3 separate regions of the Homo sapiens genome follow, and all the other regions are linked to region 3. Evidence: fine-mapped expression QTL. A gene starts in region 3. Each other region holds a variant in brackets. All regions are shown on one strand. Distances are between the middles of the regions. Region 1 holds the start of CCDC97 (coiled-coil domain containing 97). Region 2 holds the start of MIR641 (microRNA 641). Region 3 holds the start of PLD3 (phospholipase D family member 3).

What was found.
Region 1: its variant is fine-mapped to the expression of PLD3 in adrenal gland (GTEx, PIP 0.92).
Region 2: its variant is fine-mapped to the expression of PLD3 in whole blood (TOPMed, PIP above 0.99).

The regions. Positions count from the first base shown.
Region 1 is chr19:41,304,125-41,312,301 of GRCh38, reverse strand. HNRNPUL1 (heterogeneous nuclear ribonucleoprotein U like 1) reads right to left here. Exons shown (of 15, transcript NM_007040.6): 13 at 8,041-8,177; 14 at 6,435-6,626; 15 at 4,515-5,853. The coding sequence ends at 5,737. CCDC97 (coiled-coil domain containing 97) reads right to left here and starts at 2,130. Exons shown (of 5, transcript NM_052848.3): 1 at 1,946-2,130. The coding sequence starts at 1,991. LOC105372401 (a long non-coding RNA gene) reads left to right here and starts at 2,253. Exons shown (of 2, transcript XR_935968.4): 1 at 2,253-2,364; 2 at 2,477-4,763. RefSeq lists enhancers at 1,795-2,084, 3,358-3,537. The variant T/C (reference allele first, on the strand shown) is at 4,396.
Region 2 is chr19:40,275,798-40,283,974 of GRCh38, reverse strand. All of the region lies in intron 1 of AKT2 (AKT serine/threonine kinase 2), which reads left to right. It overlaps MIR641 (microRNA 641), which reads left to right and starts at 1,334; the gene lies at 1,334-1,432. RefSeq lists enhancers at 3,227-3,346, 3,387-3,436. The variant G/A (reference allele first, on the strand shown) is at 4,950.
Region 3 is chr19:40,343,718-40,351,894 of GRCh38, reverse strand. PLD3 (phospholipase D family member 3) reads right to left here and starts at 3,200. Exons shown (of 13, transcript NM_012268.4): 1 at 3,127-3,200. C19orf47 (chromosome 19 open reading frame 47) reads left to right here and starts at 3,498. Exons shown (of 9, transcript NM_001256441.2): 1 at 3,498-3,571. RefSeq lists an enhancer at 3,254-3,543 and a silencer at 3,534-3,623.

The DNA of each region.
Region 1 (8,177 bases), 960 kb before region 3:
GCCAGCCTGGCCAACATGGTGAAACCCCATCTCTACTAAAAATATACAAAATTAGACAGGCATAGTGGCGGGCACCTGTGATCCCAGCTACTTGGGAGGCTGAGGCACGGGAATCACTTGAACCTGGGAGGTGGAGGTTGCAGTGAGCTGAGATCATGCCACTGCACTCCAGCCTGGGCAACAGAGTGAGACTCTCTCAAAAAACAAACAAACAAACAAAAACCTGAATGGGGGGACTGAATTGAACAACATGGGGGAAGTCAGTGCAGACCCTAATCAGAGCAGTTTCTTAGGAGAAAAGTCAGACAGTCGTGAGCAGGAGACGAGGAAATGAAGACCAAGTATACATGACTCTCTGAAGGAGACAGATGGGGCCAAGAGACAAATTTTTTTTCTTTTTTTTGAAACAGGGTCTTGCTCTGTTGCTCAGACTGCAATGCAATAGTGCAAACACAGCTCACTGCAGCTTTGACCTCCTGGGCTCAAGTGATCCTCCCGCCTCAGACTCCTGAGTAGCCGGGACCACAGGAATGCACCATCAAACCTGGCTAATTTTTTTTTTTTTGAGACAGAGTTTTGCTCTGTTACCCAGACTGGAGTACAGTGGTGCGATCTCTGCTCACTGCAACCTCCGCCTCCCGGGTTCAAGTGATTCCAGTTGGTGCCTCAGCCTCCCGAGTAGCTGGGATTACAGGCACATACCACGACGCCTGGCTAATATTTGTATTTTTAGTAGAGATGGGGTTTCGCTATGTTGGCTAGGCTGGTCTCCAACTCCTGACCTGAGGTGATCTTCCTGCCTCCGCCTTCCAAAGTGCTGCGATTACAGGTGTAAGCCACCGGGCCCGGCCTTAATTTTTAAATTTTTTGTAGAGATGGGGTCTGGCTATGTTGCCAGTGCTGGTCTCAAACTCCTGGGCTCAAGTCTCACTCTGCTGCAGAGGCTGGAGTGCAGTGGTGTAATAATCTTAGGTCACTGCAATCTCAAAGGATTCGAGTGACACTCCCACCTTAGTCTCCTGAGTAGCTTGTCCTAGCTACTCCCTAGCCACCAGGCCTGGCTAATTTTTAAATGTTTATAGAGATCAGGTTTCTCTCTCTTGCCCAGGCTGGTCTCAAACTCTTGGGCTCAAGCAACTCTCCTGCCTTGGCCTCCCAAAGTGTTGGGATTACAAGCGGGAGCCACTGCACCCGGCCTTAAGACTTTTTTTAGGTTAAATTTTTTATTTTTAGAAAATTTCAAACATACACAAAAGTAGAAAGTACAACGACAATTCTCCCCCTACCTCCATATACCAATCATCTCCATCTGGCTTCCACAATTACCAATTCTTGGCCAGTGGTGTTGGAGCCACGCTTCCAATCACACCTCACCCGACGTCGGATTACTTTGAAGGTTGTGGGAAAGCACAGAAATTGAGTAAGGACTTTGAAAGGAGCCTGGCTGGATTTCGGACTTTGGGGGAAACGGGAGTTACAATGAAATGAAGGAATCGTTAGATTGGGATAAGTTTGCATGAGGCAGGTAGAAGTTTAGCCTGGAAAGGTAGGAGGATTCGTCTAGAGAGCAAGGGAAGGCTCAGCTTGGTACAGGGAAGGAGGTAATTTGAGAAGGGCTGGTCTGAGGCAATGCAGGAATTAGGCCGGGGTAGAGAGGTTTCTGTTAATTTGAGAGTTAGCCTGGTAAGGAAATGAATTAGGGACATGGAAAGGATTGGTCTGGAACTGGGAAGAGGTTAATTTCGGGGGGAAGGAATGGAGGAAAAGAAGGTCAGCCCGCGACAAGGGAGGGAATAATCTGGGCAAAGTAGTGAAGAGGACCGGTAAAGCTGAGGGGGGTGGGTGTCCCCCTAAAACGAGTCCTACTTCGCGTTCCTGGGGGAATCATTTCCTAGAGACACCGCAACCGCACCCACCCGCCGCCTGCGCGTGACCAAGATCTCACCCTTATCGGGTTCCTTCGCCGCCGTCGCCGTCGCCACGGCCTCCATCCTGATTCTCTCGGACTTTTCAACCGCCCGGCGGGCCCCGCACACTAACCTCCGGCCCACGCACGCAAGAGACACTTTCGCCTGAGAATGTTCCGGGTCCGGGTGCACCGCTGCGCCCAGGCACCGAAGTTCCGGGCCTAAGGCAGACGTTGCATTGCGCATGCGTGCCTCTCTCGGGCTCCGCCCTCCGCAGCCAGGAAGGAAAGGGGCTCCCCGGAGAGTGAGAGACCCTTAAACCTCTCCTGTCAGTCAGTAGGAACCAGAATCATTGTTCGTTTTATCACTGCTGTGACTCCAGCTCCCAGCGTGCTTAATTTTGGGATGGATGGCTAAAGGACTTTCCCCCGGAGCCTGGAGCCGTCATACGCTGAGGGTTCGTGCTCTCGTTTAGACCCCCGCTTGTCCTTTTCCTTTCTTAACTCCTTCAGGAATTCAGGAATATTACTAAGCCTTGACTCTTTTTTTTTTTTTTTTTTTTGAGACAGGGTCTCGCTTTGTCGCCTAGACGAATGCAGTGGCGCGATCACAGTTCAAGTAACCTCACATTCCTGTGCTCAAGTGATCCTCCTGCCTCAGCCTTTGGAGTACTTGGGACTACAGGCGCGCACAACCGCGCCCGGCTAATTTTTAAAATTTTTTTGTAGAGCCAGGGGTCCCACTTTGTTGCCCAGGCTAGTCCCCAACTCCTGGCCTCAAGCAATCCTCCCGCTTCAGCCTCTCAAAATGCTGGGATTACGCGCGTGAGCCACCAGCCTGGCTTACTTCCGTCATCATACCCTGTCTCTGGCTGGCATGAGATGGATAGTGAGATAGAACTTCCCATTTTGTGTTCCCAGGACCTGGAGGAAATCTACAGGTGTGAAACAAGACAACTCTGGTCCTTATTTCCCTATGGGATGGGTGGGGCTCTATTTAGGTGTTACCAGCAGAGTAGACAGACATGTCACTCAGTGGCCAGGGCTTTGATGGATCCAGAGGGCTGAGGGAGCTGTCCACCCCAGGCTGGAGGGTCAAGGAAGCCTTCTTTCTGGGAGGGTACCCTCAAGCTAAGACCTGAAGAACGAGTAGGAGCTGGGTTAAGAGGAAGGTAGGGAAGAGTCTTGAGGAGGATGGCACGTACGGACGGTTCTGGTTGCTGCAAGCACTTCACTACGGTCAGGGCATAGGAAAGGAGCTCTAACTTGAAAGCCATGATTGGGCTGTGGAGGTTTTGAGAACCTCATGAATTTTTATGCAAAATTCCATGTACCTCTGTATTCTCCAATGCAGTGGTTCATGGCATCATTTGTGGGTTCCAAAAAGGACTTATGGCTCCTCAGAACAAAATAAACACTGATTTGATATTCAAAGGGGGAGCAGAAAGAGAGGGCGCCAGCGATGTTACCAGGTGCTAGGCCATGCAGGGCCTCATAAGCCATAGTAAGTGGCTTGACCTCCTTTATTCTGAAGGGAGTGGGCATCAAGGGACTGGAGATGAGACGTGTGAGAAAAACTGGCTGAGAACAGAGGAAGAGCTTCCCCATTTGCATTCCCTTGAGGTCTGGAGTTGTGGAAGAAAGCCAAGGAGGTCCCTATTTACCAACCCAGATTCCTAGGCATTACCAGGAGAGGCCAGCAGAGGGCGCTGTAGCCCAGCATATGGACATGAAGGGAAGGGGACTTTCCAGACTAAAGGCCCTGCCACCTCCTCTCTGGCGCATTCTAGGGTCCCTTTTAGCCACCAACCTTGGTTCCTTCTCACGTTCTGATGCCCTACCCGAGATTCTGAGACTAGTCAGTTTCCCTCCCTTGTTTTTGTTGCCCATCTCCCCTTCACAAGGCTCTGAGCTCCCACCAGGGAAGATTGGGGCTGAATTGGCTTCTCCTGTGGCCCAGCATTGTCTCTCACAAGGAGCCAGGAACACAGCATGTATGAGGGAACGAAGACATAAGGTTGCTAAGGAAGGGGAAGATGGGCCATGGGGATGCAATCTGGAGTCTTTTACCCTGGCTCACTCCTCCAGGAAGCCCTCCCTGCACACCACCCCAGGCTCTCACAGCTGACCACTTGGTGCTGGCAGGTCTTTGTTCTCTCTGGAGTGGGAGCTCTGTGAGAACGGGGTCCAGGACTGCCGTGGCCATACTATGTCCCCAGCACTGTCCAGGACAGCTGAAGAACACAGCAGGTGGCTCACACACACTGGCTGAAACATGAAGCTCCTGGAATCCCCATGAGCCCCAAACACAGAACAGGCAGGAACTGTCCTCCGTGCTGCACACAGGCCAGGCCTGAGGCAGGTGGTCTGTGGATGCCCAGTGATGATGCCAAACAAACCAGCCCTGGTCTCTGCCCCATCAGTCCCACCCATCCCTCCACCTAGAGGCCTGTTCCATGTCCTTTACTCAAAAACTCCTGGAGGGATTT[T/C]AGACTGTGAGAGGTAGAGAACAAGAGAAGCACTTTAAAAATGAACTAGTGGATTTTAAACCAGGGACCCTTGTTTAAGCGTGCATTTTTAGCACCAAAATCGGGGCCAGGCACATGAATCCCTCAGTTAAGTTGTTTAATGAATGAGTAAATAATTTCCCTTTAAAGAGGCCCCCACCCCAATTAACGGCCAACTGCAGTAACACTTCAGGGTTTCAACCCTGCTTCCTTCCTGCTAGGAGGTGCCATGTCATTTATTCAAAGAAAACAAAACGAAACCAAACAAAACAGGGCAAACACATTTCTTAATAAGTGCAGTTTGTTAAAATCATGTTAAAACATATGAGTCAAGGGGAAGTAAAAATAAAGGGTATCACTGTAGGAAAAGCTTTTGGGTCTGGCACCTGGGAGACCACTGGAGAGGAGGCAGTGGGAGAAACTTCAAGTTCTGAAGGGAAGGAGCCCCCCAACCTCCCCTTCTTCCCTCTCACCCACTGAATCCCACCAGAAACTACCAAGACGCCCGGAATAAAAGGTTTCAAGTTCAATAGTCACTCTCTCCAAATACAAAAAGCAGTTACAATTCAACTGAACACAGAAGCTTGTGTGCAAAGTTATGGGGAACTGGGGCATCGTATAAAAAGTTGGGTTAAAGATGATTCTGTGGTTTGGTTTTGTTGTGTTTTGTTTTGTGGCTCTTCCTCAGTCACCTGAACTCAGGAAAGAAATGCTTATCTTGATGAAATATCAACAGCCCACCCACAGTAAAAAGACAAATTCTAAAAATTAAAAAAAAGCGCATAATTACCAAAAAAAAGTCACTGCTTCCTCCCCCTCCCCATTTTGCTTTTTAAACTTTTTTTTTTTTAAGTTTTGATTTTTTTTTTAATCCTGAAAAGTAGACAGTAAAACAGCTCCTGGGAGAATTTACAACCAACTGCATGAGGGTCTGGGAAGCTGAGGGGCTGGAGCAGGGTTGGGAGAGTGAACAGGAGGGGATTCTCCCCTCAGTCACTGTAGCCTCACTGTATGATCAAGGGAGGTGGGGATTATTTAGTCAAAAAGGAAGAAGGTAGGAAGAACAGGAGGTGGAAGGCTGGGGAGGTGGGGACAAACAGAAAATAAAAGGTCATTGTTGCCTGTTTGAATCCAGAAAAAAATGCCTGGCCCTATGGAGGGGAAGGAAGCCCCTCAGAGGGGAGGCAGTGGGCTGGAGGGAGGCAGCCCTGGGATGACCCCATCCCCAGCACCACGGGATCTGGCGGGGGCAGAGGAGGGGCCGAGGCAGGCGCTGGTGGAGGAAGCCGGCAGGGGCCTCCGGGAGCCTCTGGGTCACACTGGCTACTGTGTACTTGTGCCACCCTGTGTGTTCCCGGAGTAGCTCCCGTAGTCGTAGTTCCCGTAGTATGGCGGCCACTGGCCCTGGTTCTGATAGTACTGGTTCCACTGCTGGGCATACTGGGGAAAGAAACCAAGAACACCAAGTTGTCCTGCATCCACCACACATTTAGCCTCCCCACCAGCCCCACCCTCACCTAGGGCAGAGACAGCTGCAGTGACAACAGTTGAACACAGGTCCCCTGACAGAGAAATCAAGGCACCTTGGAAAGACCTGACACCACACAGGTAGGCAGTTAGGGACTGAAGCCCAGGTCTCAGCTTGTCAACCCAGTGCCTTTTGGGTATAGCTAGATATCATAGTCAAAAGATTTAGTAACAGGTATGGGGGCCTGGGCACCAACCTGCAGCAGGATTTGGAGCCCCCTGTCTATGGTGCTGAAAGAGGACTCTGAGGCCCCTGGTACTTAGGCCAGCCCTTCCCCTTCACTTGCTAGACTGTGGAGGGGGCTAGGATACCAATTACCTAGCAACCAGTGCAGAAGTGTTGACCAAATGGAATGGCTGCACCAGATGAACGCCAGGCCGAGGCCAGCAGGCTGTCTTTTTAGGGATAAGCAGGGACTTAAGTCTGGGAATACACACCCAGGAGGGGCCCATGGAAGTCTCTCCATCCAGTTGGCCCCCAGTCTGGCACCTACCTGCTGATACTGGTTATAGCTGGGCTGAGGGTAGGTCTGTGCAGTGGGGGGTGGCGGTGGGGTATAGGGGGCCGGGTTGTAACCGCCGTAGCTCCCATAGTTGTAGGCAGGTGGTGGTGGAGGTGGAGGCGGTGGGGCTGTGTAGCCCTGGCTGTAACCTCCCTGGTTGTAGGGTGGCTGGCTGTAACTCGGCTGGAAAGTGGAGGGAAAAAAGCCAAAGCTCTGTGAAATAGAGGAAATCTGCAGATGTGAAATGCTGGGATGGAAAAAGGGCCTTTTTAAGTGGTTGGCCCACAGGGGCCCTTCCCTTGCCTAGTGGACATTGTTTGTGGGCTGAGAAGGAGGAGAGCCAGCTCCATGCCATGGTAGGGCAGGATGAAGGGCAAGCCCCAGGGCTGTGATGTGGACTCTAACCCCAGCTCTGAGACCCCCAGGGAGCAAGGTACACGGCACTTCTTGAAATCTCAGTTTTCTTTTTTATAAAATGAGAATCACAATAGAACAAGAACAACTCCTTTAGCTTGCCCTGGGTATCCAATAAGCTTGTGTGTATAAACCACTGGGTACTCAACAGGTGGTGGTAGTTGTTACTGGAAGATCTGCTGAGAAACAGTAGTGGCAATTGACTAAGTGCTTCCCAAGTACAGGTTGGATCATTACATCATATAATCTCCATATAGAACCTAGGGGTAGGTCCCACTAGCCCCATTTTAAAGAGAAAGAAACTGAGGCTCAAGATGAAATTTCTGGGCCAAGGAAAAAGGACTTGACCCCAGGTCTGCCTAGTCCCAGAGCTATAGTGCCACCCATTCCTCACAACAAACCTTGGAAGGGACTTCTACTAACACCTTTATGAGGAAAATGAGGCCCAGAGACGGGAAGCTATTTGTCCAAGCTCACAGAAACAGGATGTTGTGGGGCTGGGGGTTTGGATCTGTGCCTGCCCAACTCTTGTTCTAAGAAATATTCTAGTTAGCTGGGCCTGGGAACCATCCATTGGTCTCCTGGCAGCTGATTCCAGGCCCGGCATGAGGAAAGTGCTTGGGAAATGGCTGTGCGATAACTGAAAACCTCTCTGGTTTACAGGAGCCTGTGCATACCAGAGCCAGGGCACTGGCTTTCCAAGAATGGGAACTGAGCCTGGAGCTGCTCAGGATTGAAGCTCTCTGTGCAGAGGGCAAGTCCTCAGCAACCTTAGTGCCCTGGTTATTATGTCCAAAAGACAAAGAGGTCAGCCAGCCTGGGCAAGGGGTGACTCCAGTCAAGTGCTTTCTTGGGGATTTAGTGAGGTTAGTGACACTAGCCAAGAATAATGTACTTGCTGGAGGGATCAGTGCTTACAGCCCATCCCCTTGAGGGTGGTGGGAGAAGAGCAGGTTCTGGGAAGGTCTACATTTACTCCTGGGTTTGGAGGGGATCTGGGAATGTGTAGGGTCCATCTGAGTCAAGATCACGGCCAGGGAGAAAGAAGGGCAGGCTAGAGGTTAGAGTGAAGACCAGTAGCTGGGGCATGTGTTGATTTCCCCAGATCCGCCTCCACCTAACTTGCTCAGGTTCAAAAGCACACGTGCGATCACTACATACAAACACACACTCATTCTCTCACCTGTGGAGGGCTGTAGCTGCTGACGGTGGGGGTGCTGGTATTGGCGCTTGAGCCAGGGATGTTGCTGTTCTTATTGTAGGTGCTGGCCCCTGGGGGGTTCCGAGCAGGGCTGTAGCTGGGTGGTGGCGGTGGCTGCT
Region 2 (8,177 bases), 68 kb after region 3:
ACATGCTCCTCTGTCGCTGGCCACGAAGCTGTTTGTGTCTCCCAGTTACCAGCTCGGTCACACATCATGTTTACACTCCCCACCAAGGCAGTAACAGTTGGCCTTGCAGTGAGGCCGGGAGCTGTTTTCCCAGCTGTTCCTCTTTGCATAGGCCAAGGGGACTTGGAGTGGGGGTGCCCCTGGCCCAGCCTGGCCCAGGGAGGAAGGCTGCTCTGAAGGGCTTGGGACAGTCAGATCCCCCATGGATCTGGTGTCTTATTGTGGTCTGTGGGCTGGTGCTGGGAGCAGCCAGCCCCAGAGGTCTGTGGCCAGTGTCCCTGCTCCCTAGGCCAGATCATGACCTTGGCTTGCCCTGTAGCCTTTGCTCTGGGTCTGGAGTTCCCAGAGGACTGGCTGCAGTCCCTGATTGACCCAGCAGACCTGGGCTGGTGATGTGGTCAGAGGGGGCAGATGGTTGCCCCTAGTCCGCAGCAGTGACTTCCAAGCTGACTGGCTTCCGTGGCTCGTGGTTCCTGGAGAGAAAGGTCCCACAGTCTGTGAGGCAGCGGCGACTCTGTAGAATCTTTCTCCACTAGGGGTTTGTTCCTCTGGTCCTCTCCTGCCAGCTTTTAGAGGGTTTGCCTGATGGGGCTAACAGTGGCAGTGAAAACAGTAATCATGAAATTGATGGCTGACAGTAACTGAGTGCATTCTGTGGGCCACACACTGTTTGGAATGCTTCATATAGATAAACTTGCTGAATACTTGAATTCTAGAGCGGTAGGCGCTGTTGTTATGCTCTCCCTTTTAGATGAGAAAACAGCATCTCAGAGAGGCAGATCATTTCCAGAGCTAGTGGATGCCCAGTGTTTATAGCATTCACCCCATGCCAGGCGTGTGACAGGGCTTTTGTACATGTGATCTCACTTAAGTCTCAAAACATACCTGTGGTTAGGCCTATTTTATGGAGAGCTACGAGCTAGTTAGAAGTGTGATACCATTTTACAGATGAGGAATCATTTCACTCACTGTGAAGTGCAAAGATTTCCCAGAGGTCTCATAGCTGAAGTGGGAGAGGTGTGATGTGAGCCCTTGGCCAACCTTGGCCTCAGATCGTCTTGTCAAGGAGAAACTGGAGGAGTGGCTTTTGTCTGTGAGCATATACTCTGCCCAGCCCTGTGCTTTGGGCTTTATATGGTATTTGTGTCCTTTTTTGCAGAGTCCGAAATTGAAGTTCAGAGGAAGAATTGCCTTCCACCGCATCTTATCAGACCCTATGGGTGCCAGGGTAGGATTTGAACCCAGGTCACTGAGCCCCTAGTGCCATGCATTCCTTGCTCACCAGGTTCCAGGCTGGGTGAAAGGAAGGAAAGACATAGGATAGAGTCACCTCTGTCCTCTGTCCTCTACCTATAGAGGTGACTGTCCTATGTCTTTCCTTCCTCTTACCCCTGAGCCTCAGGCTGCCCTGAGCATCTCTGCCTACAGCCAGTCCAGCATTTCTTGGTCCCTCCTCAGAGTGGAGGCAAGGCATCCTTTAACCCTGGGCAGGTGTGTGCTGGGAGAAGAAGACAGCAAGAGAGCCATGCAGGGGGTGACACAGCTACCAGGGACCTGCGTTAGCTAGCAGCAGGACGGTGAAGTCGGTTCTAGCTCTGCGACCTTGGACCACACTGTTCACTCCCATACAGTGGTCTCAGAAGGACGTCCACCTTGGGCTGTTGTGAGGATTAAATGAATTAATCCACGAGAAGCTCCTAGAATGGTGCCTGGTACTGTGTAAGTCTTGGTTGGCAGTCATGATTATGTTATGGAACGGAGGCATCCAGCCTCCCCCACCCCCTACTTTTGGTCCCCTCGAGCATTCCGGGATCCAGCTCCCCAGCCTGGCCCAGCTAGGATCCAGAACTTCAATGTTCTGGTTTCCAGCCTCTGTAAAGAGGTGTATGGAAGCGAGTGAGAGCACAGGGTTCAAATCCAGCCGTGCCACTCCATGGCTGTGTGACCTTGAGCAGGCTCCCCAACCCTTGTGAGCTCATTTCATCATCGGTGCCATGGGGATGATGATAATTCCCACCTGATAGGATTATTGTGAAGGCTGAGTGGATTAATTTGTGGGAAGCATTCATAACTGTTCTGGCATACAATAAGCCTACCGGAAATGTCTCCTCACTAAGAACAGTGCCCGACACATGGTGAGCTGTTGGTCTGTCTTAGCAATTGTAATTCTTAGTATTTCTGCCGGGACTTTGAAGGCCTTTGCCAGTTCACAGAACCGTGTCAGAGAGCACTAGGAGGAGATCAGGGCTGAAATTAGCATCTCAGTTTTACAGATGCAGAAACAGAGGTCGGGGGAGACATGCAATCAAGTCAGAACTGACAAGGGCAGCTCCCGGGCCCACTCCTCTTCCACGCAGTGGCTTTGCAGCCCTGAGCGCCTCCAAGGTAGACACACTGGAGTCTTTTCAGAGGTCAGGCTCTGTGCTTGTTTTTTTTTTTCTTTTGAGACAGGGCCTCCCTCTGTCACCCAGGCTGGAGTGCAGTGGTGTGATCACAGCTCACTGCAGGCTTGACCTCCTAGGCTTTAGTGATCCTTCCACCTCATCCTCTTGAGTAGCTGGGACTACAGGTGCATGCCACCATGCCTAGCTAATTTTTAAATTTTTTGTGGAAACGGGAGTCTCGCTATGTTGCTCAGGCTAGTCTTGAACTCCTGGGCTCAAGTGATCCTCCTGCCTCAGTCTCCTGAGTAGCTGGGACCGTAGGTGCATGCCACTGCCCCTGGTTCCCAGCCCACCACAGCTCACAGCTCTGGGAGTGGCAGGAAGGCTGGGCCTGGGCAGGGGGAGCAGCAGAAGTGCCTGCAGGGGTTGGCAGGGGCTGTGCTGCACTGGCCTGTGGGCCTGGGTGAGAGGTGAGGATGGATCCTAAGGGTATTGTGGAGCCGAGGAAAAGGTTTCACTCATCCGCCACCATTTACTGAACACCTCGTATGTGCCAGCGTTGCATCAGTACTGGGAATACAGCAGTGTACTTGCCAAAGTCCCTATCCTTGTGGGGCTAAGCAAGACCAACCCGAAACAGGTTAATAAGCAAGGAGCCGGTTAGAGGGGGAGGAGCTAGGCAGCGAATTCAAATCAGGTGACAGACTGGGCACTTCTTTAGATGCATGCGGCTGTGGGGAGGGCCTCTGAGCTGATCCCAGTTTGGCAAGGTGAGGCAGTCATGTGGGATGGGAGGAGAAGGAACAGCCCTCCAGGTGGAGGGAACCACAGTGCAAAGGTCTGAAGGGAGGACAGAGCTTGGTGAGGTGCAGGGACAAGCCTCACGGAGGCCTGTGTGGCTTGGCAGAGCGAGGGAGCAGGGAGGAGATGAGTCCTGGGGCTGCGGGGCAGGCAGGGCCCTTTCACTGGGAGCCTTGTGGACTGTCTGTGAAGGAGTTTGGAATTTCAGCAGGAACAGCCTGGTCAGATTCAGGGTGTTAGCAGGTGACCCAGGAGCCGGTCACAGGCTCCTGCCTGGGGGCGTGGGTAGATTTGACTGAGCGGAGCAGGGCGTTTCACAGGCCTCCCACTTCCCCTCCAGTAGCATCACTGCCTTACAGCCAGCAAAGGCCTGAGGGTTGCCTCCCTCCTGTGGTTTTCACACCGTGTTCTCCAGAGCCCGTGGCTGTTACTTTTAGGGAAAGAGGAGGGGAGGCTCATTGGGCTGATTTCTCTGCCCATTCCTCCCCAACCCAACCAGCCGGACTAATACTGAATAGCAACGCAGGGCAGCAGTCACACCTGATACAGACAGCACCCGCTGACCCTGCGTCCACGCTGCCGTGGGCCTGTAGGCCTGCGCCATTCCCAGTGCTCCTCTGGAATTGGAAAGACCAGGGCTTGTGACTGGCGCCCAGCACCCAGGTCTCTGGTTGGGCTCAGGTGTGGTTGATATTACGAAGGCAAAATAAATGAGGGCCAGGTTGAGAGTGTGGGCATGTTTCTCCACTATAGCTGGGTGATCAGGGAGGACCTCCCTGAGGAGGTGACGTGTGGGTAGGGACTGGAGTGCTGTGAGGGAGCCATGGGAGGATCTGGGTGAAGACCCATTAGACCCAGGAGGAATCTTCTCTGATTCCCGCTTTACAAGTGGTGAGAACTGAAGCCTGGAGAGCCTCTGTAGCTTGTGCTGAGTCCCCCAACCAGGAAGTGTTGGGGACAGGCTATGAATCTGGGCTTCCAGAGATTCCCCCACCACAGCTCAGTAGCCCCTGGTGAGTGTGACTTCTGATCCCACCCATGGGCTCACCCCTAAGGCTTGGTGCGGGAGCAGGCGCTCTGGCTTTTTTTTTTTTTTTTGAGGTGTGTTCCAGGGTATCTTCCTAGAAGGAGCAGAACCCCTCAGAACAAACCACTAGGGTCTCCAGAAGGCCCCCGGGATGGGTTGGGATGGAAAGGAGTGTCTTTCAGACTTGAGCTCCAAGCCCCTGGAGGACCCAGGGTCACCCCTCCCCGGGCCTCTCTTCAGCTTCCCAGAGCTCTCAGCGGAAGGCCCTCAACCACAGGCCTCCGGGCCGCACGGTGGGGTGGTTCCATGGCAGGCTCTTCTGGACAGCCAGCCAAGCAGCGAGAGGCCCAGCTGGGGGAGACAGCCTGGGAGCAGGACCAGGAGGGAGGGAGTGAGTGTGGGAGGGGCGCTGGGTGGGAGCTCAGCCTGGCCCCCTTGGGGCAGGACCCACTGCCAACTCGGCACCCACAGCAGGGCCCAGGTGCTCTGACTGTGCCGAGCGAGGGACAGCAAGCCGGGTCGGCCAAGAGGAGACTGCATGTCAGAGGTCCCAGCAGGAGTTTCTTCAGCCCAGCCGTCCTGCTGGAGAAGCTCGTTCGCAGATGTTGTTTCTAAGGGTGAGGCCAGAAACCCAAGTCTTCCTCGGTTTGCCACTTTGTGGGCCCTTTCCGAATGGGCTGGGGCAGTTGCCGCTCCCC[G/A]GTTCTCTTCTCCAGCCTGGCTTCAAGTTCTTCATGGTCTGGTGGGTTTTTGGTGTACACTTACCCAGCTGGGGCTGCTGAGTGACCTGGTCCCGGGGGTAGCTGACGTGGGTGAGAACCCTGCTCTTGGCACCCCTCTCGGTGGCTGTGGAGCTCTGGGGCCTTATTTCTTCTCCCTAAGGTGCATTTTGCTCAGCTGTAAACGGGAACCTTCCTGCTGAGTGGGGCGGTGGGGAGGATGCACGGAGCTGCTGCGTTGGAAAGCACAGGCCTCCTGAGGAGGCGGCGGGATGAATTTGGGCTGATGCTACTCCTGGTGATTGCCAGACAGGACTGAGGGCACCTGAGAGCACAGAAGGGGCTCTGCAGGGCAGTGGGCACAGGCTCGTTGTTGGTCCTTGGGAGAGAGTGGTAGGGCCTGTTAGCTGATGGGAGGGCTCCAGACAGGAATGTGAATCACTCCCACCACTGTACTCCTGCCCAACCAGACGCTGCATATTAGCTCTACAAACCTGCACAGCAGCCTGGGAGGTGGGCAGTGTTAGCACTCCCATCTCGTAGATAGGAAACTGAGGCCCAGGAAGCCACATAGAATATTGGGGTCATTCTCGTGAGTAGTTCGCCTCTCAGTGCTGGGCACTGCTGCAGAGCTTAAGGTGTCTGCTCTCACTCATCCTCACCACAGCCTGGCAGCTCGCTGTCCCGATCGTCCCCGTTGTACAGGGGAGGAAACGGGCATAGAGAGGTTATTGGATTTGCTGGAAGTCAGTAATAGGCATGATGGTTGAACCCTGCTCTGTCGGCGAAGCTGCCTTTTGAAGACAGCCTCATCTTCTTGCCCTGCCTGCTATGACTGGAGTTGTCACTGTTGTCATCATGATTTCTTTTCTGCTTTCTCTTCTCCTAGACAGAGCTGGCACAAAGTAGGCCTCAGTAATCCAGAAATGACTCCATTCCATGCCTGCTTGGGATGTGGGGTGTGGCTGCTTCTCTCCACCCCCAATACCATGACCTTGGCCCCTCCCAAGGGGGGCCCAGGGGGAAGAGATGAGGATGGGAGGCACCCCCTCCCCACTGCCCTAGGGGCCTGATTGCTGAACAGCCTCAGGAGCCAGCCTTTGGCTGTTCTTGGTCATTTGTGTGTTCCATCTGTCTCCAAATATTGATTGAATCACTTCTATGTGCCACGTGTAGTTCTGGATGCGATCGGAGGTGGCAGAGAGGTTGCATTGGCCTGTGAGTGCTTGGTGTGGCTGAAGGAGGGAACAGAGATCTAGCTGGACTGGGTGGGAGAGGGGCTTGGGAAGGCTGCTGAGGAGCCCCTGTGATGTGAGAGCCCGAGGAAGTGGGCTGGACGGGGTGCAGCCAGGTAAAGGCCGCAAGGAAGGCGATATCTGGATGTGCTGGTGGAACAGCAGGCCCATGTAGCTGGAGCCGGGGGAGTGGGTGAGGGGGAGAGAGCAGGGTGGCAGGGCTCAGGGCCTGGGCTATGATGGGGATCCAGGGCTTTATCCCCAAAGAGAAGGGACACAGGTGGGTGGGGAGGGACCTGTGTGGGAGAGAGCTGGCTGGATTCAGGTGGCAGCCAGGGATGGAGAAAGCAGACCATATTCTGCTTTGGAGACAGGGCGCCCTAGAGCCCAGCTTCTCAAACTGGTGTCCGAAGGCCTTGGCGGGTGGGAGGAGGTGTCTGCAGGGCATTGACTCTTTTTAGCTGTGTGTTTTCATTTAGATGATATTTTCAAAAAGTTAGTAGGGGCATGTTGGAAATTATTGGGATGATTCCTTTAGAACCAAGTAGTGACAGCAGTAACATTAGCTGCCACTGCATGGCTCTGACAGGCTCAGGACGGCCCCTGATGTCAGAGTCCTTTATGTAATTGCCACCTATTTTTCAAGCACTGGCCCTGTCCCCAGCTGTGTGTGAAGCCATCTCATTGGGTCCCCAGGACAACCCATGGTTATCAGAAAAATCATCTTTTTAAATTTTTCATTATTTTTTTGAGACAGGGTCTGGCTCTGTCACCCAGGCTGGAATGCAGTGGCACCATCATGGCTGATTGCAGCCTTGACCTCACTGGCTCAAGTGGTCCTCCCACCTCAGCCTTCTGAGTAGCTGGGACTACAGGCATGCACCATCATACCTGGCTAATTTTTTTAAAACAATTTTCAGTAGAGATGGGAGTCTCCCTATTTTGCTCAGGCTGATCTTGAACTTTTGGGCTCCAGTGATCCACATCCCTCAGCCTCCCAAAGTGCTGGGATTACAGGCGTGAATCACTGCACCTGGCCTGCAAAAATTATCTTTTGAGATAACATAAACATGTGCTTGGGCAGATTGGTGTTAAGATTCCATTCTACAGGCTGGGCACGGTGGTTCACACCTGTAATCCCAGCACTTTGGGAGGCCGAGGAGGGTGGATCACGAGGTCAGGAGTTCAGTACCAGCCTGGCCAAGATGGTGAAACCCTGTCTGTACTAAAAATACAAAAATTAGCCAGGTGTGGTGGTGGGTGCCTATAATCCTAGCTATTCGGGAGGTTGAGACAGGAGAATTGCTTGAACCTGGGAAGCAGAGGTTGCAGTGAGCCAAGATCGCACTACTGCACTCCAGCCTGGCGACAGAGTGAGACTCTGTCTCAAAAAAAAAAAAAAAAAAAAAAAAAAAAAAAAAAAAAAAGATTCCATTTTACAGATGCGGAAGCTGAGGTTCAGAGAAGTGACCTGTGTAGCCTGGAAGTGGTAGAGTCAGGATTTGAGTTGACTAGAGGTGTGAGTTTGGGCCTGAGTCCTGCTCCAATTCCCCAGGTAAGCTGCGTTGGGGTGCGGGAGAGATGGGGTATAGCATGGGAGCTTCCAGCCGCACTGGGATGATCTGGCTCCTCTTGGGCCTGTGAGAGTCACATCCCTGCCTCCTGCCTTTAAGCTCCCGGTGCTTAATTAGCAGGAATTCTATAGAATTGCACTCCAGAATGGTAGCTACTAGCCATGTATGGACTTTTTTTTTTTTTTTTGAGACGGAGTCTTGCTCTGTCACCCAGGCTGGAGTGCAGTGGTGTGATCTTGTCTCACTACAACCGCCGCCTCCCGGGTTCAAGCGATTCTCTGCCTCAGCCTCCCGAGTAGCTGGGATTACAGGCGCCTACCACCACGCCTGGCTAATTTTTGTATTTTTAGTAGAGACAGGGTTTCACCATCTTGGCCAGGCTGGTCTTGAACTCCTGACCT
Region 3 (8,177 bases):
GCCTCTCACTAGTCGATCCTGGGTAGAAGTTCTGGAGCTGCCACAGCTCAGGGTGATGGCTTCATGTCACACTGGACCGCATCCCTCCTCGGCTCCACATCCTCCTGTGGCACCCACCTCACTGGGAGTAAAAGCCAGCCTTCTGCATGGCTCACAAGGCCTTCCACGATGTGCCCCATCACCCCTCCAATGTCGTCTCTTGCCCCTCTCCTCTCTCACTGACCTCCTTGCTATTCCTTAAATATTCCAAGCTTGCTCCTACCGCAAGACTTTTGCTTTTGCTGTTCTCTTTGCCCAGCATGCTGTTCCCCCAGAGGGCCATGTCACTCTTTCTTTCTCTCTCTCTTTTTTTGAGACAGAATCTCGCTGTCGCCCAGGCTGGAGTGCAATGGCGCAATCTCAGTTCACTGCAACCTCCGCCTCCCTGGTTCAAGCGATTCTCCTGCCTCAGCCTCCTGAATAGCTGGGATTACAGGTGTCTGCCACTATGCCTGCCTAATTTTTTGTAATTTTAGTAGAGACGAGGTTTCACCATGTTAGTCAGGCTGGTCTCGAACTCCTGACCTCAGGTGATCTGCCAGCCTTGGCCTCCCAAAGTGCTGGGATTATAGGCATGAGCCACTACGCCTGGCCGTTTTTTTGTTTTGTTTTGTTTTTTTGTTTTGAGACAGGGTCTCCGTCTGTTGCCCAGGCTGGAGTGTATTGGCAAAATCATGGCTCACTGCAGCCTCGAACTCCCAGGCTCAAGCGATCCCCCCACCTCTCAGCCTCCCAAGTAGCTGGGACCACAGGCGCACACCACCATACCTGGCTAATTTTTGTAGAGATGGGGTTTCGCTATGTTGCCCAGGCTGATCTCAAACTCCTGAGCTCCAGCGATCCACCTTCCTCAGCCTCCCAAAGTGCTGTGATCACAGGCGTGAGCCACCGTGCCCAGCCCTACTCTCTCTTCTCCTTCAAGTATTTGTTTCAAATGTCACCTTCTCAGAAAGCTTTCCCTGACCACCCTATTTAAAACTATAACCTTGACCCCACATTCCCCATGCCCCTTCTAATACATCCAATAATCTACTTACCTATTTACCCATTGCCTCTTACCCCCACTAGAGTGTAGTACACAGTCCATAAGGCCAGATTTTTTTTTTTTTTTTGAGATGGGGTCTCACTCTGTCACCCAGGCTGGAGTGCAGTGGTGCGATCTCAACTCACTGCAGCCTCCGCCTCCTGGGTTCAAGCAATCCTCTCACCTCAGCCTCCCGAGTTGCTCAGATTTTAGGGGCGCGCCACCATGCCTGGCTAATTTTTGCATTTTTAGTAGAGATGGGGCTTCACCATGTTGTCCAGGCTGGTCTCAAACTCCTGGTCTCAGGTGATCCACCCACTTCACCTCCCAAAGTGCTTGGATTACAGGTGTGAGCCATTGCGCCAGGCCGAGATATTTTTGTCTGTATTGTTCATTGAGGTATCCCCAGTGTCTAGCAGTGTTGGGCACATATATAGTACATGCTTAAGAATTATGTGCAGAATGATTAATTTGTGTTTTCATTCCCATATTGCAGATGCAGTAACTGAGGCGCTGGGAGGTTAAGTTAGTTGCCCAAGATCATGCAGTTTTTTTTTTTTTTTTTTTTTTTGAGACGGAGTCTCGCTCTTGTTGCCCAGGCTACAGTGCAATGGCACGATCTAGGCTCACTGCAACCTCCGCCTCTCAGATTCGAACGATTCTCCTGTCTCAGCCTCCCGAGTAGCTGGGATTACAGGCATGTGCCACCATGCCTGGCTAATTTTGTATTTTTAATAGAGATGGGGTTTCTCCATGTTGGTCAGGCTGGTCTCGAACTTCCGACCTGAGGTGATCCGCCCGCCTCGGCCTCCCAAAGTGCTGGGATTACAGGCGTGAGCCACCGCGCCTGGCCTATTATTATTATTTTTTTTTGAGACGGAGTCTCGCTCTTGTTGCCCAGGCTGGAGTGCAATGGCGCGATCTCGGCTCACTGCAACCTCCACCTCCCCGGTTCAAGCCATTCTCCTGCCTCAGCCTCCCGAGTAGCTGGGATTATAGGCATGCACCACCACGCCCGGCTAATTTTGTATTTTTAGTAGAGACGGGGTTTCTCCATGTTGATCAGGCTGGTCTCGAACTCCCGACATCAGGTGATCCGCCCACCTTGGCCTCCTAAAGTGCTGGGATTACAGGCATGAGCCACCGCACCCGGCCGAGGGTGACATGGTTAATAACAATATTAGCCAAAAACACCATGTCAAGCTGAGCCTACCACAAGAATAAACTCACAGAATCGTCACACTCAGCCCTGATGTGGATGTCCCCGTGTGCATTTTGCAGATGAAGCTGGGATTGGAAAGGTGCCATAAGGCAGTCAAGGTATCCAGAGGTGTAGTGGTGGGGCTGGGATTCTGACACACCCCAGGTAATGGGCTGCAGTACCCCGTATGTTATGTGAGATGTGACACGGGGAAATGACGAAGACACGGAGGGAAGAAAAATAACTGTAAGGCTGGGTGGCTCCTTATGGGGAAAACTGGAAGCATGAGGAGTGGATGGTGACTGGTCAGAGGAACAGTGATGCCAAGGGAGGGACAAAGACACAAGGGGTAATGATGACGTAAGAGTTGCATTAGCGCGATTTAAGAAGAGCGATGGGGACAGTAGCCATGCGAAGGTGACTTGGGGGTATGATGAGGGTTTAAAGAGAAATGAGGATTTTATAAAGGAGAAATGGCAACAAAAGCAGGATGCAGGTAACATATGGCGATGACGAATTTAAAGGGAGCGATTACGACCTATGGTGGCAAAGAGGGCTTACAGGGAACGAAAGCGAGTTAAGGGCGTTGATGACAACAAGAGGAGTTGTGAGGATTTAAAGAGGGTGATGGCGACAGAAGGAGTTGTGAGGATTTAAGTGGGATGAGACAGAAGGAGAGGAATGGTGACATAAAGAGACCGAGGACGACATAAATTATAGCGTGGAAGACAACGCTATAATTATATATATTATATTCCATATATTATATTCCATATAATATATATTATATTCCATGCATTATAGCGTGGAAGACAACACGAGGAGGGTAGCCGAGGCGCCGCGCCCCCAGATCGCACAGTACCTGCACTCCACGTCTCCCACTCCGAGACCCAGCCCCACACGCACCTTCCAGGCTGTATCCCCGCCTGACGGCCCCTCCTAGCCGCGCGCAGGCGCACTACGGCTAGACTGCAGGCCGGCGGGGGCCAGGCATGCGCCTTTCTCATTGGCCGCGCCGCTTGCTAGCTTCGGGCGGAGGGGAGCGCCGGGCCGACGGTGGGCGGTCACGTGACGGTTACGACTGCACTCTCGCTGGTGTCGGTGGGCGGTCACGTGATGGTTATGGCCGCACTCTCGCTGGTGGCGGCCTGTTGGGGTAGAGCGGCCGCGGACGAGTCAGTTCAGCTTCCGGCGGTGAGAGGATGCTTCCGGGGCGGGCAGCCCGGGCCGGGGGAGGAGTGTCTGACAGTTGGCGCCGCCGGGAGGGAGGGCGGGCGGCGCGAGTGGGCGCGGGCCCGGTGGGCCAGGTGAGGCGCGGGCCGGGGGTGGTGGGACTGGGCCGGTTGCGGTAGGGACGGGTGGCGTCCGGGTGTCTGGACTCAGTTCGGGCTCCGTTGTACGGCTTCGGACTTACGATTTGTTTCTTTGAGCCTCAGTTTCCTCCCCTGTGGAATGGGGGTTAGAATCCGACTGTATCACCGGCTTTATAAATGGGAGTGAGAAGTCAGGTCGTGTACGTTGGATGCCTTAGCTCAGCGCCTCCGCATAACGCTCACTTCGTTACTATACTATTATTATTAGTATTGATGTTTGAGCGCTTAGTATGAAAAATTGTTGGGTTTGGAAGCCGTCGAATTTTGGTTCAAGTCCCGCTCCACTGTGCGGCAGTGGGGCCTGTGTCTTCGCTTCCTTGAACCCCGTTTTTTCTCATCTGTACAATGAGAGCAGATAGTCCCAATATCATAGGGTCGTCTTGAGGATTCTGATGAAATCTGTGTGTGTAAAGATTTTAAGCAGAGGGGCTGGCACAGTGAGAGCTCGTGGATTGGGACTATAATGATAATGATTCTGAGAGTCATTGGTGTAGCTGGGAATTCCAGGGAAGCTGGGGGAGAAAGCTCAGAGACAGCAATAGGAAAAACTTAGAATTGGAGCCGGGGAAATCGACATCCTGTCACTTACTATTTGACCAATTTTGCTGAGTCCTGAAGTACTAGTTTTTTTCTTTTTCTTGATAATGACTAGTGCATTTTTTTCCCCAGTAAGTTAATTTGAGAAGGCAAATTTGCATTGCTGTCTTCTTCTTTTTTTTTTCTTTGAGACGGAGTTTCGCTCTTGTTGCCCAGGCTGGAGTGCAATGGTGCAATTTCGTCTCACCGCAACCTCCGCTTCCTGGGTTCAAGGGATTCTCCTGCCTCAACCTTCCGAGTAGCTGGGATTACAGGCATGCGCCACCACGCCCGGCTAATTTTTTTTGTATTTTAGTAGAGACGGGGTTTCTGCATGTTGGTCAGGCTGGTCTCGAACTTCTGACTTCAGGTGATCTGCCCGCCTCTGCCTCCCAAAGTGCTGGGATTACAGGTGTGAGCCACCGTGCCCGGCGCATTGCTGTCTTCAATGGAAAACTAGCATTGCTGGCCATGAGAGGAAGGAAAAGTTCAGGTAAAATACAATGGAAACTGAACAGCCCATTACATTGTACACTGAAATGGAAAGATAATTGAAAAGGAATACTACGTATTCCCTTTGAATAGGGATACTGTTCAGAACCTGTACTGTGTGATTCCCTGTTGTCAGATCCCATGGACCCCCATTAAGTTGTCCTTATACTTGTTCCCAGCTCACACTTTGTATAAAACTAGCATTAAGTCAGTGACTGTCCCACTGTTTCCCTAGCTTACTGAAGATTTGTTTTATTTGATGCACACTTAACATCGCACTTAACCACCTGCCGTGCATCTTTGTTCTAAGGACTCTGTTTATTAACTCGTTTAATCCTTGTAACACCTTTAAGAATGGGTCCTTGGCTGGGCGTGGTGGCTCACGCCTGTAATCCTAGCACTTTGGGAGGCCGAGACGGGCGGATCACGAGGTCAGGAGATAGAGACCATCCTGGCTAACACGGTGAAACCCCGTCTCTACTAAAACTACAGAAAATTAGCCGGGCATGGTGGTGGGGGCCTGTAATCCCAGCTACTTGGGAGGCTGAGGCAGGATAATTGCTTGAACCTGGGAGGCAGAGGTTGCAGTGAGACGAGATCACGCCACTGCACTCCAGCCTGGGCGACAGAGTGGGACTTCATCTCAAAAAAAAAAAAGGGTCCTCTTTTTTTTTTTTTAAGATGGTGTTTTTTTATTTTTATTATTTATTTATTTATTTATTTATTTATTTATTTATTTATTTATTTGAGACAAGGTCTCGCTCTGTTGCCCAGGCTGGAGTGCAGTGGTGCGATCTTGGATCACTGCAACCTCTGCCTCCCGGGCTTAAGCAATTCTCCTGCCTCAGCCTCCTGAGTAGCTAGGATTACAGGTGCCCACCACCACGCCTGGCTAATTTTTGTATTTTTAGTAGAGAGGGGTTTCACTATGTTGGCCAGGCTGGTCTTGAATTCCTGACCTCAGGTTATCCACCTGCCTCAGCCTCCCAAGGTGCTGGCCAAGAATTGGTAATCTTACTTTTTTTTTTTTTTTTGAGATGGAGTCTCACTCTGTTGCCCAGGCTGGAGTGTAGTGGTACAGTTTCGGCTCACTGCAACCTCTGCCTCCTGGGTTCAAGTGATTCTCCTGCCTCAGCCTCCCGAGTAGCTGGGATTACAGGTGCCTGCCACCATGCCCAGCTAATTTTTTGTATTTTTAGTAGAGGCGGAGTTTCGCCATGTTGGCCAGGCTGGTCTCAAACTCCTGACCTTGTGATCCACTGCCTTGGCCTCCCAAAGCGTTGGGATTACAGGCATGAGCCACTGCGCCCAGCCACCTTTCCTTTTTTTTTTTTTTTTTTTGAGACTGAGTCTTGCTCTGTTGCCCAGGCTGGAGTGAAGTGGCGTAATCTTGGCTCACTGCAACCTCTCCCCCCCCCGCCCCGGGTTGAAGCGATTCTCCCACCTTAGCCTACTGAGTAGCTTGGATTACAGGCATACACCACCATGCCTGGCTAATTTTTGTATTTTTAGTAGAGATGGGGTTTCACCATATTGGCCAGGCTGGTCTCGAACTCCTGACCTCAGGTGATCCACCCGCCTCAGCCTCCCAAAGTGCTGTGATTACAGGCGTGAGCCACCACGCCCAGTTTTTTTTTTTTTTTTTTTTTTTTTAACAGTGACAGGGTCTCGCTATATTGCCCAGGCTGGCCTCAAAATCCTGGGCTCCAGAGATCCTCCTGCTTCGGCCTCCCAAAGTGCTGGGACTACAGGTGTGAGTTACTGTACCCGGCCTTACCATTCTTATTGTGCAGTTGAGGGAAGTGAGGTCAGAAAGGTTAAGCTACTTGTCCAGAGTCAGGATTAGGACGTGGTAAAATTGGGATTTGGATACAGGTCTTCTAAGGGCTTAGCACATGGAGTCTGGTATGTGGTAATCCCTTGAGTTTTGGGAGCTGCTGTCTTTAAAATCACTATTATAATTTTCACTATTCGGAAAGTCAGTGCTGGAGATGGGCTTTTAAGATTGTGGAGAGAGGAAATTGAATTCAGTAGGGTCTGTAGCACTTGGGGGAGAATACCAGTACTTAAAGGATTCTGGTTAGCATTAACTGAGACATTGAAAAACAGACCATAGTACCTGGCTGGTAGTAATCCCTCAATCAGCATGAACCATAGCCATTGGACTGCGTGGGGTCCAAGTCCTGCTGCTTCCTTTACTTGCTATATGATCTTGAACTCCTAGGCTCAAGGGATCCTCCTGACCCTAAAGTGCTGGGATGACAGGCCTGAGCCACTGTGCCCAGCCTTTTGCTGTGTGATCTTGGACCTGCCATTCTCATCTGTAACTTTCCGAGGGTGGTTGTGAGGAGCGACTGAGATGTGTATATGCTCAGTTCCTGGTACATAGTAAGCACTCAATGGGACCTATTCCCTGGACGTCAGAATCAGGAAGAACTTGTTTTTGAATCCCAGTAAGGTCAGTTGCTAGATGTGCCATTTGACAAACGACTGCACCTCAATGAGTCGGGGTTTTTCATCGATAAAAACAGGGCTAATAATAGTCCTCACTTGCTGAGCTGTTGGGATGCATCTGCATGATGCTTGGCGCTGGTCCTGATGCATAGTTAGTGCTTGGTTTGTGAGATGTTCTGTCTGACTTACTGAGACCTCTCCGTGCTGTTCTTTGAGAGATGCATGTTGTACTGTATTTTATTTCATTATTATTTTTTGAGACAGAGTCTTGCTCTGTCACTCAGGCTAGAGTGCAGTGGTGTGATCTCGGCCCACTGCAGCCTCTGCCTCCCGGGTTCAAGCGATTCTCCTGCCTCAGCCTGCCGAGTAGCTGGGATTACAGGCGCCCACCACCATGCCCGACTAATTTTTGTATTTTTAGTAGAGATGGGGTTTCACCATGTTGGCCAGGCTGGTCTCAAACTCCTGACCTCAGGTGATCCACCTGCCTCGACCTCCCAAAGTGCTGGGATTACAGGCACGAGCCACTGCTCCTGGCCTGTATTGTCTTTGGCCAGTGGTAAAATTCAGGAGGGAAATTGGATCTAAGAGTGTTGAGTACAGGACAGAGTGATGTCTGTGGTCATACTCATCAATAAGAGATTGAGCAGAAGGCCAGGTGCCTGTAATCCCAGCACTTTGGGAAACTGATGTGGGCAGATCACTTGAGGTCAGGAGTTCGAGACTAGCCTGGCCAACATGGTGAAACCCCATCTGTACTAAAAATACAAAAATTAGCTGGGTGTGGTGGCGAGTGCCTGTGGTCCCAGCTGCTCGGGAGGCTGAGGCAGGAGAACCGCTTGAACCCAGGAGGCGAAGGTTGCAGTGAGCCGAGATCGCGCCACTGCACTCCAGCCTGGGCGACAGAGCAAGACTTTGTCTCAAAAAAAAAAAAAAAAAATTGAGCAGAAGCCAGAGAAGGGCAAGATTAACCCTAGTGAGGATAGAGAAGAGAGTCTCATATGTGGGGACTTAGGGA